Linked DNA regions of Homo sapiens. The protein of the gene in region 2 interacts with the protein of the main gene of each other region in a biochemical or structural test. Each region holds a gene or a part of one and is shown on either strand. Other genes may lie near its edges.

The links. The genes of interacting proteins can lie anywhere in the genome.
Region 1: the proteins of ERCC6 (region 2) and ZBTB38 form a complex in vitro, tested with the Homo sapiens proteins (one large-scale study listed by BioGRID).
Region 3: the proteins of ERCC6 (region 2) and MRPL13 form a complex in vitro, tested with the Homo sapiens proteins (one large-scale study listed by BioGRID).
Region 4: the proteins of ERCC6 (region 2) and SF3B3 form a complex in vitro, tested with the Homo sapiens proteins (one large-scale study listed by BioGRID).

The regions. Positions count from the first base shown.
Region 1 is NC_000003.12:141,445,004-141,448,503, reverse strand, and holds part of ZBTB38 (zinc finger and BTB domain-containing protein 38), read right to left. Parts: coding exon 2,528-3,500; 3' UTR 1-2,527. UniProt on the Homo sapiens protein: Transcriptional regulator with bimodal DNA-binding specificity. Binds with a higher affinity to methylated CpG dinucleotides in the consensus sequence 5'-CGCG-3' but can also bind to E-box elements (5'-CACGTG-3').
Region 2 is NC_000010.11:49,529,122-49,532,621, forward strand, and holds part of ERCC6 (DNA excision repair protein ERCC-6), read right to left. Parts: coding exon 3,422-3,500; intron 1,720-3,421; coding exon 1,599-1,719; intron 1-1,598. UniProt on the Homo sapiens protein: Involved in repair of DNA damage following UV irradiation, acting either in the absence of ERCC6 or synergistically with ERCC6. Involved in the regulation of gene expression.
Region 3 is NC_000008.11:120,431,651-120,435,150, forward strand, and holds part of MRPL13 (large ribosomal subunit protein uL13m), read right to left. Parts: intron 474-3,500; coding exon 380-473; intron 1-379.
Region 4 is NC_000016.10:70,565,316-70,568,815, forward strand, and holds part of SF3B3 (splicing factor 3B subunit 3), read left to right. Parts: intron 1-52; coding exon 53-209; intron 210-2,095; coding exon 2,096-2,221; intron 2,222-2,967; coding exon 2,968-3,180; intron 3,181-3,500. UniProt on the Homo sapiens protein: Component of the 17S U2 SnRNP complex of the spliceosome, a large ribonucleoprotein complex that removes introns from transcribed pre-mRNAs.

The DNA.
Region 1 (3,500 bases), on a different chromosome or scaffold from region 2:
TGGTCATGTACTCAATGCATACTTAAACATCACTCAATAAAATTTTCACAATTAACAAAAAAATGTGACAAGGCTGTCTTAAAACGGCTCTGCTATAAATTGTATAGAATATACAGAATTACAAAGTCAAGTATTTTTTTATCAAAATATACACCCCTCCCTGAAACTAACACAAGCTATCAACATTTTAAATGAATACAATTATAGAAAATATTTGCAAAATTATTTTTTCATGTATAAATATTCTGCCATATTTACTTTGGTCTAGAATTATCAGCATACAAGTCCACTTAAAAAATATCCACATATAAGGGCTGGGAGAGAGACATCACTACAGGTAATTTTATATTTGGGGTTAACTCAAATCAAAATGACTAGAATATACAGTAAATGTCTTTGATTAATATTATTAACTGATAAAACAAATTAGTGGATCATAGGATTGCTTATTCAATATTCTAATTATCAATTCAAAAATGATTTTCGTAAGCCCTTTGTGACTATCTCTTTAATAAAACCCAAATGAATAGTGTAGGGTGTACATATATACAATGTATAAAATAAAGTTGAATTTGCTTGCATTTTCCCATTTTTCTCTACTTATATAATACTGTATGTAAGTGAAAGTAGATGAACAAAAGATAAATGCAGATACAATAGTGGGGTTACTTAACAGCAAGGTACTACAGTATTAAAAGGTCAACTTTAATCATGTCCTTTCCTGGGCGTTTAAATGCTTTCTTACCCACCCAAATCCATACTAAGTCTTCTTCATGGAGACATCACACTTGTAGACAGAAACCGGAGTCCTTTGAGCTACTTCTTCACAATGATAACCTTCCAATCTTCGATAACCTTGGGTTTCCATCTGTCAAATCCAATGAACATGAATGACTGCAGGTCACGCTGAAACTGCATTCCGGATTCTGTTCACACTGGTGATCAAAGGGTAGAAATGTTTTCTCTCTCCCTTCTATTCTGGCAGTTTGAAAAAGAATCATGAGTTCCGGCTTTCCAGGAACCTAGTCCACATGATAGAATATGCTGTAGGGCAATTAGATTTGAGGGTAGTGTTGATGGTGTGGGTCAAAGAACATAAAAAAAAAACTTCAGTGGGTTTTTAGCAAGGGGTCTAGATGTCTGCAAATATGAAGACAGAGCATCTGGCTTTGTAGATATATTTCTGAGTCTCATAAGTAAAGGATAGAACCATGTCACTCCACATCCTACCTTCCCACCCCCTAAAAACAAAGCTACTGTTTTAGGCAAGGAAGGCCATCACTTCTTCTTGCCCACTCAAGTCATTAATGGGTGGGGTGGAGGGTGGGGGTTCCTTTGTCCTTTTGCTTTATACTAGTCTGTACTTGTGGGCTGCATAATCTCCAACAAGGCTAGTAATTGTAGGGATTAGGCAGTCACTTTCAAGTGCCTGGGAATTCACTACTGCAGTGTACCTTGCACTAAATCTCTTGGACAGTCCTTCAGTGGAATGGGAGATGGCAGGTTCCACTTGAGCCCTTAAGTCTGTCTGGAATAGACCCCCACATCCATGGCCTTGTGGTGGTTGGAAGACTGCAGAGAGTTTCAGAACAATGTGACCCTCTTTCATTCTCTGAGATGAGGCCATTGCAAAGTAATATGCAGCACAGGTAATCACAGGTAAATTCTGGGAGGGTGTTCCCCCATAGATAAGGCATGACCTATGTTTTCTGTGAATTGAGTAGACCAGTTCTAAGAACAGCTCAGCCATAACTTCAAGGGAACAGCATTCCATCTAAAAGCATTCACATGCTCTTAAATCATATTCAAAATGCTTTCTATTGATTTTTACATCAGTCCTCATTATTTGCAGATCTATTGCTCCTCATAATTCTCTACAGGGGATATGGACAGTTAAAAGTTATAGTGATTTATATATGTATTTTACAAGGTTTGTGTTGCAGAAAAGTAGTTCTACATAATGTATGAATGTCCTACTTTAGGTTACTCATTATGCACATAATTTCAGTTATATTGTTTAAGTATTTCATGTGTATCCATTAATTTAAACAAATTTTAATAGTGCAGAAGCCAGATGGGAATAAAGACCGTCACACAGCTTATTACCACGTAACATATTTACGAAGATGCCATCTTCAGGATATCTGACCCTTATTTTCTCCAGTGACTAAAGACAGTTCAGCAGCCAGTTCTTATTAGCAATTATTAGAAAGTTTTAAACTAGGCTAAAATTAAACTCCTTTTTTCACTGGTAGAAATACCACAGCTAAGAATTTTATTAACTTTCACAAGAAACTTGGGATATTGGAGGAGTCAGCTATTTTGTTTTTGTGCACTTTGCATAAAGTTAATGCTAAAACCCAAAGTAGATATTAGGATCCTTTTTCTGGAATTTTCACAAATGAGTTTTTTTTTTTTTTAATTTCACTCCTTCATGACTGTCACATGGACAAAATGAAACTAAACTTAAATCATAACTAAAAAAACCACCAACTATATTTTTGAAGATTTTTCTAATTCTTGCCACTCAAAGGACAACATTTTCCACACCGGTTTGTATGTTATCCTTTTGGTCATTGTCTTCTGAACCAATGAAATGTTGATTCTCCAAGGGATTTGAGTTTTCGTGGCACACGTCACCTATTTTCTCCTGCTGACTTGGGCTTTTGAATAAGTGTTTCTTTTGGTGCATTCCAAGGGCAGCAGCTGTTTTGCAAATTTTGGGGCACTGGAAGCAGGCATAGCCCTTCCCATTATGCTCCCGAATATGCCTCTGCTCGTGATTCCTTTTGGTGGAGAGATACAAAAATCTCTGAAAGCAGAACTGACAGTGGTAACGCTTTTCTCCAGTATGGATTCTTTCATGGATTTTGAGGGTCTCATTCAAGGTGAATGCCTTGTTGCAATACTGACAGACGAACTCCTTCAAGCCCAGGTGGATGCGTTCATGTTTCTGTAAGTTTCCTTGCACCGAAAAGCACCGTCCGCAGGTCTTGCACTGGTATGGCTTCTCCCCGGTGTGACATCTCATGTGCATTTTGAGTGTGGAAGGGCTCTGGAACTGCTTGGCGCAGAGCTCGCAGGCATATGGCCGAGAAGTAAGATGTCGGTGGGGCCTTCCTTGGTTTCCAGCCCCCACTGCTTTGTCTCCATCACAGAGTTCACACTGCAGCTTGGGCATCTCTTTAGTTTCTTCTTCCTCAAAGGGTTTATCCTGAGGAGCCTTCCCCACGGCGCAATCCAGTTCTGCTGGGTATTTACATTTATGGCTCGGGCTCCTGTTTCCGTGCTCCTTCCTCCAGTTGACTTTCCTCATTTTTTTCAACTGTCTGGATTTCTTTTTGGGTTTGTAGTTGTAGTAAGGGCGCCACGGTTTGTCAGTGGAATCCTGGTCACTTGCGTCATCGAACACTTCACTCATCTCCATGCACTCGGATTGGCAAAGCCCGAGTGGGCTGTCTCCACTGGGTTCTGGGTCATTCCCCTGTGGCAAAGGCTCC
Region 2 (3,500 bases):
CAGAACTCAGATATGTGCCCTTGGGCTTCACTGGGGAGGCCCAATGAACTGGGCTTGTGGTACCTGGTTCATCTTTCCAAGGTCAAGAATGTTTCAACTTCAAATACGAGTGTGGGACAAGGGGAAATCCTGAACATAAATGCCACACTGCAATGACTTGCAATTTGTTTTTTCTCAGTTTTTCTCTCAGCAACATTCTGTCTAAAGCACTTTCCCTCTGAATAGTCTACCTCTAACCATCAAAGAGCTGCTAAAGACAAGAATGCATAATTAAGTTAGACTAGGACCTGAAGTGGTCTCAAGTTTGATGCTCTACACCCTTGAAATTCCAGCCCACTAGAAGCCCAAGAAGGTCTCTGCACATCAATTTCACATGCTCCCACAAGAGACCAGATGTCCTCTCTCTGATTTGGGAGGACCCACCTGCCTTGGGCAACTGCTAGCTTTGACCTTTGGGCTGCTATTCTGGAAGCAAGTGAGAGAAGATGGGGTAGTGCAGGTAACAGACTGGTGAGTGGAAAGTATAATAAAAGGAGGGCCACGTGAACTGAACCAACGCACAGCCCTGCCCCTGGAGAGCTTAAAGAAAAGATGCAAGGACTCTACTCACTGCAGTGAATCAACTGTAAGCACAAGTTGGGATGGCAGAACTGAAATGGTTACAGCTAGTCATTCCTATCTATTGCAATGTATTTTCACAAAGGGGTACATAAATCATAAAAAATGTTTCAGACCTCACAAAGCTGTACATAAATCCTTAAAAAAAGTTTCAAACTTCATAAAAATAATATCCTAAGTAACAAATATTCCCTACCCTTAAGTTTTCCAAAGCTAAGTACAACCCCAGTGTGGCTGGGTGCTGACTGTAACACCCAAGGTGGGAGGAAGGGCCAAGCTCTCGCAACTGTCAGCAAAGGTGTGTGAGGGTCAATGGCTGCACCACCAAGAAACAGAGTGGAGACAATTAGAGGAAGCAAGGGCTAAGCAGAAAAGAGTTCACAGGAGACCAGGAGACTGAGGCCAGTGTGACCCTAAGCCAGGCCAAAGAAATGGTGATGCAGGAAAACTAAGGAAGTGCGCCCAAGTGAGGCAAGCAACACCAAAAAGGAACTTTTCTCAAATACACAGATGGTCTCCAACTTATCATGGTCTGACTTGCAATTTTTCAACTTTGTGATGGGTTTATCAGGGCATAACCCCATTATAAACTGAGGAGCCTCTGGACTTAACTATGGTTTGACTTACAATATTTTGACTTTAAGATAGGTTTTTCAGTGTATTTAATGCATTTTTGACTAACAATATTTTCAATTTACGATGGGTTTGTCGGGATGTAACCCTGTTGTAAATCAAGGAGCAACTGTATACGTATGGATGTGTGTGTCTATGTATGTGTGTTTTTTTAAATGCAATAGAATGGGATGTTAAAGGAAAACAGCAGAAAGATTAAACATACAAAAGAAACCCAAAATTTCTCTATTGTAATTATAAGTATTTGCTTCACATCTTATAAGCACTTTTTAAAATACTTCCTAAATTAAGTGCCCCTAAATGATGACTTTTTCAAAAATGCAATACTGAATGTTATTCTGAATCACCTTATTATACTTCTGTCGTTTTACAGAATCTAGTTTCCTGTTGATGTCTCTGCTGGTGGCAGCTTGAGGGCTAAGCTGTTCAATAATTTTATTGATTTGCCTTAGGGATGTCGTACATGACCTGAAAAATAAGATAAATTGTCTATTTTGCACTCTGATAACATTTTTATAGCATAATATAAAGAGAAAAATGCTAAAAACATGTCCCTTTTACTTCTTATTAACTAAAAGATAAAGGAAACTAAACCAGAATACATACCCTTATTGGCCACAAATAAAACTTGTAGGATCATTAGAGGTTTAAGATGACTGCTAGTGTTTTCTTTTATCTAGCTGATTTAGATCAGCTCATTCCCATTTGTAAGCTGCTTCAGTCATTCTACAAGCATTATTTAAGTGCCTACTTTATTCAACACACTATGCTAGAACAATGTGCAATAAGTTGTCCTTTTACATGAAAAAATGCATACATGGGTTTTTTAAGCCCGTTACGGAAGCCTTCCAAAGTCTGGAAGCATCCTAAATATGCTTAAACATTTTTTTATATAAATCACACATCTGCGACAATATTTTTCTTCTACATAAATGGAAGATTCACTTACTACAGCACTAAACTTTGTGGTGCAAAGAAAACAAATCAATTTAAAATAAATTACTCCTAAAATAGACACCATAGAATTGTAGCTTCCAATTTTCAAAACACAAATTCAATCTTCTTGATGATTGTGTAATTTGCTGTTTGTATCCTCTGTGGATTACAGGATAAACAATGCGTATTACTGGCTGAGACACCACATGCCACCAGCCATCTAGCATCACTCTGCATGGAGACCCCACAACTCTCCTCTGTCACCTCTGGAGAAAGAGGACACATTTCCAAGATCAAATGTAAAAGTATCATTACAAAGAGTTGAGGTCCTCAACACTCAGACTATAACCATGAACGAGCACCTGCTCCTGAGGAGGCCAAAAGAACACACCAGGGAATGGTTAGCAGAAAACATGTCTTTGAAGTACCAACAACCACATTCATGACAGCGCCACACTCCACCCTCCCCAGCTATCCTCTGTGACACTGCTCCATCCTCCATCCCGTTCAGCCCTCGCCTTCTTTCTTGCTTACCTGACACTGCCCAGAACACTGCCCAACGGGGGCCAAGCAGCAATGATAAGTGAGCTCAACCCCTCCCACTTCCCCTCTCCTGTCCTCACCTCCTACCCTTGCTCAGGTCTACAGCCTCCCCTTCTTCCCCATTAACGTGCTATGCTCAAAACAGCTCAAGTCTTCTCCCTCTCTAAGACACAAATAAAATCTCCATTTCCAGAGTCAGAACAAGGATGGAAGAAAAGAAAACCGGGGAGTCTTTATTATTTCTAAAAATGCAAATCTGAAAAATTGCCCAAGGACTGAACACTAAGTTTGGGGACAGTAAGCTAGAAAGAAGCTACCGCACAGAGAAAAATGTGAAGGGGGCGCAATGTATTCCTGGCATCTCGAATAGGAAACACCTGAATTTAGGTGCACCTCTCCTGAGATCACTTTGTGCACATGCTGGTGAACAGCCCTTCTCTTCTGGACATTATGCATGCAACTGGCTTTCACGAGCTGGACAGAGACTCTAACTACCATGTACAATGCCACTCCTAAGGGGAAGGGCTGGGACTCAAAGATGAGGTTGAGGACTGCCCTTATTGACTCTGTCCTCCAAATAAAAGGTTCTACACATCTCCTAAACTTCTGGAATACTAGAGCTTTCCATTACCTGAATATCCCTGTCATGTTTTACCACCACTTTGAAAGGAAGAAGATGGGCTGCACTCACGTGAGGTCATCCAGGACCGACCGATACTCCTTCTCCACGTCAACGAGCTGGGAGGCACGGCTGGCCTCATGGATGGCAT
Region 3 (3,500 bases), on a different chromosome or scaffold from region 2:
GATTTTATCTAGAGAAGAGTGACCATTCCTTAAACATCTTGTTAACTTTCAGATGGTTTGGGATGGTTCTGAAAACAGCAGTAAGATGAATTACAGGAAGCAGAAATACAAAGTAAAAGAGTGACTAAAACATGAGAATAATCTTGTCCACAGGTTATATGAAACACTTGTAGGATAAACAAATACTGTCAGGTAATAGCTATATTTGGTATAGTTGTGTGGTTTTTAAAAATTGAGTAAATTATATACATGGCATGAGTAAAATTAGTAATAAATGCTGATTTTTAAAAATATCTTTTTTCTTTTAAGTAAGAACAACTGTATTCTTAAAGTAATATATTTTAACTACCTAATTTCCCTGACAACAGCATTATCTTACCCAGTATGCGAAGAGTATACTTTTTGTTCCCATTTGTTTCCAGAAAATGCAATGTGTCTTGTGTTCATTATAACAACATGATCCCCACAGTCACCTACATTTTAAAAAGAAACAAGATTTTGTAAGAAAAATAAAAACCTTAAGAAAAAGTGGCCTTGGTTATTTATAAAGCTTATCAAAGTTCAAACAACATATTAAAAAATAAAAAGCAAGTTACAGTGCAACATCAAAAATCCTTGAATAGATTTCTGTTACTTTTTAATATAACATCTAAGTATAGAAAGAGTTGGCTGGCCATTTGGAAAATCTCAACACTGCAAAGTAAAAGAAATTTAATAAGGTTGCCAATAACAACAATACATCTTTTAAAGGCAAATTACTGTTATTCTTGTGACTTTTCCCATTAATAATTACACTTCAGTAAAAATGTTTGTATTAAGTGCCTTTAAATGTCTGATACAAAATTTCCCTGAAAAATAGCCAAGAAAATGAAAACAGTATGTATATAGATATAAAAAAGTATGTTTTACCTACAGGTAAATTGAAAACATATGTAAAACATTACAATTATTATTTTTTGCAAATTTAGGGAACAGACTGCTTTGATCTTATTAACTACCATGGAAAGGTTTCTTTCCAACCATGTTTATAGTAAATTTAAACTGCTACTCTCAACTATGACTACGTAAATATATTTGACAGGACAGATGACCTGAAAATCAAAATATGTGTATCTGCTTCATTTTCTATCCCTAAGTTTGGCTGTTCATCTAAAAACAAACTAAAAAGTTAACATGTACATTTTCAAATAACTGACTATACATAACAAAATCAAGTAATTAGAAACATTTATAAAATACCTATTTTACTAATAGAAAAAACAAACCAAGATATTCTAGAAGCTCAAGAAAAAAGTACTAAAAATAAGAAATACAAGTACAATATATATGAAAACTAAAGATTATAAGATTCTATGCAGAGCCCTAAATTTGAGTGGCAGAATTTTCACAGACGTTCATAGTCTATATAGGATAAGAATAAAGAAAAGAAGATAATGCAAGTGGGTTTTCATCACTAGAGTGAAAGGAAATTCAGAGGTATGAATGAAAGACCTGGGAAGCTTGCTGTTATTAGATGGAAAAGAATAGTCTGACAATGTTTAATTAAATGGTTGAAGTTCCTAAAAGTGACACCCTGTTGGCTACTGAGGCAGTTGGGCGAATGCAGCAGAACAGCAAATAAAGAAGGTGGGAAGATAACCAGACAACCTCAAAAAACACTGAAATTACTTTAGCTCACATTCAGACATTTACAGCAGAAGAAGATTAAGTGATTTGCAGAGGCTCACACGCTAAGTTACCTAACACCCGGTGTAGGCTCTTTCCATAACATCTATTTGGAGGAAAAAATGGAATCTTTAAACTTTCCATTAAAACTGAATTTATTTTTAAATTGTTAAGTTTTAAATATAGGTAAAGCATCTCGAGCCACTCAAAAAATATCTACAGAGAGCAAAAAAGATCTTCCAAGGGGCATTAGACAGATTGCCACAAAGCAACTGAAAATCATATTCTTTCAGTTCTAAGGTATCACATCTAATCTGGGAAAAATTGTTCTTCCTCAATAATATATGCCAAATCTCTAGTAAATTCATTCTAAGAAGCATTTCTCTACTAACTCTAAACAAAAACTAACCAGCAATTAAATACATGCTTTTAACTGTATTTCATTAACACTAAAGTCAGTATTACTGTAAGACTGTAACCCTGGATATAGCACAGTTGTTTCTGTCTAAATTTCTATTAAGTTAAATACATATAGTTTCATTTTATAATTTTTAATTTAAAACTGCACATTTAATATATATGTACCAAATGTAAATAAATCATAGCTCTAGTGCTTGATCAAGAGATGTTCTGAAGAGAAATTAAGTTGAAAAATAGTAAGCAATTTTTAGAAATAGGAATTGTGAGTTTATTTACAAAAATTCTAACCTTAAACTTCTAACTTTATCTGACTCCTCAGTATAATACTAGGTGCTCAATTAAATGGCCAAATAAATTCAAACTAATTCAGACAAAGTGAAAACTCAACAGCTTCATGTCAGGAAACCTAAGGTCTCAGATAGGTTACACCATCAGGGGCAGCTCTTAGTCCTACACCGCCTCAATGTTTTGGCCCACCTTCTCCCTTAAGCCAGAATGAAGTCATAATTTTTCCTCAAAATTGCCTGGGAGGAAAGGAAGTAATAATTATTCAACATCTTCTACATGCAAAGCACTGAGCTAGGCATTTTATACTCACTTTTAACACTTAAAGTCTCACAACTATCTTATTAGGTAAAGCTAACGTACTCCCTCTGCCTGCTACCACTTTTACTATTTAATAATGTTTACGGAGAAAACAGAGTCAGAGGTTCAACTCAGCTAAAATTATATGGCTAATAAGTGGTAAAGTTAAGTTTCAAATACAACTCCAGTAAAACTTCAAAGGCAGATCTTACCATTTCTACCACAACCAGATGGCAAAAAGTGGTAGTTAAAATGCCATAAGGAGACAATGATATCATTCACTAATTGATCACGTATTCTTTTCTGCTAAATTCTAAGATCTCAGAAGTCCTTCTCAGCAAACTGCTCACAGGTTACAGTTATTTGCCATCTTTGTACTTCCCCATGTACCAGCTCCTTGATTAGGGATTCAAGGAGACCTAGAGTATAGGATAACTTTTTGTAGCCTTATTTACCAGTTTTTCCAACACTACTGTCTGGGCCAGGTAAGCCATGCTATTTAGGTTGGTGCAAAACTATTTGCAGTTTTTGCCACTGAAATGGCAAACTCTACTTTGTTCTAGCATTTGTATAATTTTTTTGGTCCTAGATCCTTGCTGCAGACTCTTAATTATAGATCCCTCACATAGAGTTATCAGACACAATAAGTGTTTACAAAAATCCCTAGTGTTCATTTTTAACTATGTTTGAGATACTCAGATTCCATGCAAGGGCAGATTCAGATAGAGACACCAATTCAGCTTGCTGAGAGTCTCCAGCTCTTTTAAAATTTGCTTTATAATCCTTTTCCATTGATGAACAAATCCACTTGCTATGTATTACATACTTAC
Region 4 (3,500 bases), on a different chromosome or scaffold from region 2:
GCTCTCTGAGTTTTGACTAAGGCCTTACTCTTGCTTCTTATTCTGTGTGTAGTGTGGCTGTGTGCAGGTTTTCCAACACTGGTGAAGACTGGTATGTGCTGGTGGGTGTGGCCAAGGACCTGATACTAAACCCCCGATCTGTGGCAGGGGGCTTCGTCTATACTTACAAGCTTGTGAACAATGGGGAAAAACTGGAGTTTTTGCACAAGGTAGGAATCTGCCAGTGGTTCTCCTAGATTTTAAGTCCCATTGAATTCTCTCACTTTTGCTTATGTTATGGATCAGGTCTTTTGGGGACCAGCTCCTTGATTCCAATCTCTCTCTTACCAGCACATGGAAAATGCTGGGGCCTTCTAGCTGCAGTGATGTTCTTGTGCCTGTGCATTCCACAGGAAGGCTTTGTGCTAACCATCCATAATGGGGAGATAGATGCACATTCAATTGGTCTCTTTCTTACTGTTTTAATAAGCAGGCAACAATTTGTGACCAAAATTCAGCAGTTTAAATAATTAATATTCTGGCTGGGCGCAGTGGCTCATGCCTGTAATCCCAGCACTTTGGGAGGCCGAGGCAGGCAGATCACCTGAGGTCAGGAGTTCGAGACCAGCCCGGCCAACATGGTGAAAGCCTGTCTCTACTAAAAATACAAAAATCAGCCAGGCATGGCGGCACGCACCTGTAATCCCAGCTGCTCGGGAGGCTAAGACAGGAGAATCGCTTGAACCCGGGAGGCGGAGGTTGCAGTGAGCCGAGATTGCGCCATTGCACTCTAGCCTGGGTGACAAGAGTGAGACTGTCAAAAAAAAAAAAAAGATTTAATATTCTTTTCCACCTGCATTCTCTGGGAAGTTACTGTTTAATGGGTACAGAGTTTCAGTTTGGGAAGATGAAAAAAATTCTGGAGGTGATAGTTACACAACAGTAAATGTGCTTAATGCCACTGAAGTGTATACTTAAAAATGACTGGCTGGGCATGGTGTCTCACGCCTGTAATCCCAGCACTTTGGAAGGCCGAGGTGGGCGGGTCACCTGAGCTCAGGAGTTCAAAACCAGTCTGGTCAACGTGGTGAAATCCCATCTCTATTAAAAATAAAAAATCAGCCAAGCATGGTGGTGGGCGCCTGTAACCCTAGCTATTCCAGAGGCTAAGGCAGGAGAATCACTTGAACCCAGGAGGCAGAGGTTGCAGTGAGCCGAGATTGCGCCACTGCACTCCAGCGTGGGTGACAGAGCGAGACTCTGTCTCAAAAAAAAGAAAAGGATTAAGATGGTAAACTTTATGTTATGACTATTTTACCATAATTTTTAAAATAAAAAGAATATTCTCTTCTCCACAATGACAGCATGTGGATTCCTTCAACCCTACCATAAGGGGAGTATCCTCTAAGAAATACTTCATAGACCCTTTTGCATATTAAATTTGTCTCTCCTTTACAACTGAGATGTCACTAGGCTGGGTGCAGTGGCTCACGCTTGTAATCCCAGCATTTTGGGAGTCTGAGTCGAGCAGGTCACTTGAGCCCAAGAGTTTGAGACCAGCCTGGGCAATGTGGTGAAACTCAGTTTCTACGAAAAATACAGATAATTAGTCAGGCTTGATGGCACATGCCTGTAGTCCCAGCTACTCGGGAGTCTGAGGTGGGAGGATCACCTGAGCCCAGGAAGTCCAGGCTATAGTGAGCCATGATTGCGCCTGCCACAGCCCTTCAGCCTGAGCAGTAGTGAGACCCTGTCTCAAAAAAAAAAAAAAAAGTCACTTTTCACTAGCATTTCTTTCCTGTCCCTCCACAAATTACAGTCACTTGGCTACTAAGGCTTCACTGTTGAAATAACACCAGTTAAACAGAGCACAAGCTCTGGACAGCAGTCGTCTGGTACCAGAACTTCTTGTCAGTTACAGCATTGATCCCTCTACTGAGTGAATGCAGCATGCGGAACTTGTTCACCCCAACACCCAGATTCATTAGCAAAATAAGCTCACTGGTGTGTTTCTTAATGATAGGCTCCTGTGGAAGTAGGCATTTCTGGGCAGAGAGGTGAGGCCTGTGTCTGGCTGGCATTTATAATAGCTGTATTACCTGCTTTTCCTCTATAGACTCCTGTGGAAGAGGTCCCTGCTGCTATTGCCCCATTCCAGGGGAGGGTGTTGATTGGTGTGGGGAAGCTGTTGCGTGTCTATGACCTGGGAAAGAAGAAGTTACTCCGAAAATGTGAGAATAAGGTAAGTGTGCTGGCATTGGTGCTGAGATCTAGCTCATGTGTCAAGGGTGGGGGCATTGGTGGGGTGGTGGGCATTGAGTTTTAAAATCTTATCTTTATTAGGACTTGTTGTGTTACCCCAATTCCAGCTTCAGAATTATGCCCTTGTTTTTTTGTTTTTTGGTTTTTGAGACGGAGTCTCGCCCTGTTGCCCAGGCTGGAGTGCAGTGGCGCAATCTCGGCTCACTGCAACCTCCGCCTCCTGGGTTCAAGCGATTCTCCTGCCTCAGCCTCCCAAGTAGCTGGGATTACAGATGCGCGCCACCACGCCTGGCAAATTTTTTGTATCTTTAGTAGAGACAGGGTTTTACCATGTTGGCCAGGCTAGTCTCTTAACTCCTGATCTCATGATCTACCCGCCTTAGCCTCCCAAAGTCCTGGGTTTACAGGCGTGAGCCACCGCACCGGCCCTTGAGTTTTGAGAGGAGCAGGAGTAGAGGGATCTCATTTCTTGACTTACCAAACAAGAACCAGCTTTCTATCTTGCTAGCTTCTATAAGGAAAGTAAATGTGAGAGTTAGGCATATATTTGCACTATATTAAAAGCTATTTGGCTCTTTTTTCCCACCTAGAATTCATTGCTAACTGCTGGTTTTTGGTATTTGCTGTTCTGCTGACCCTACGTATGTCATACGGAAAGCTGGGCTTTCTTTGGGTTCTGAACCCCAAGATTACACCCACCATCACTATTGTCTTTGTTTTTCCCAGCATATTGCCAATTATATCTCTGGGATCCAGACTATCGGACATAGGGTAATTGTATCTGATGTCCAAGAAAGTTTCATCTGGGTTCGCTACAAGCGTAATGAAAACCAGCTTATCATCTTTGCTGATGATACCTACCCCCGATGGGTCACTACAGCCAGCCTCCTGGACTATGACACTGTGGCTGGGGCAGACAAGTTTGGCAACATATGTGTGGTGAGTTGATGTTGTTAACTTGGGTTACAGTGATGTGTAGGAAAGCTGGCTCAGTTTCTTGTGGGTAAAGCCAAGGAGGAATCAAATCTGAGAAGTAAAAATGGATATAAAATTCCATCCTACTAAAGCTAACTCTACAAGCAATCTGTTCTTTAAGCCTTCTTACTAGTCTTTTGGATTTTTCTCTGTGGTTTATCTCCCTCCTCCCTATTGAACGTGATTTAATGATAGGTTTAGTTTGAGCTAATGGCTAATATTTCTTTTTACATTTTATAAGAACTTTGGAATGTCTGTTATCTATGTTGTGTGGTTTTGGTTTT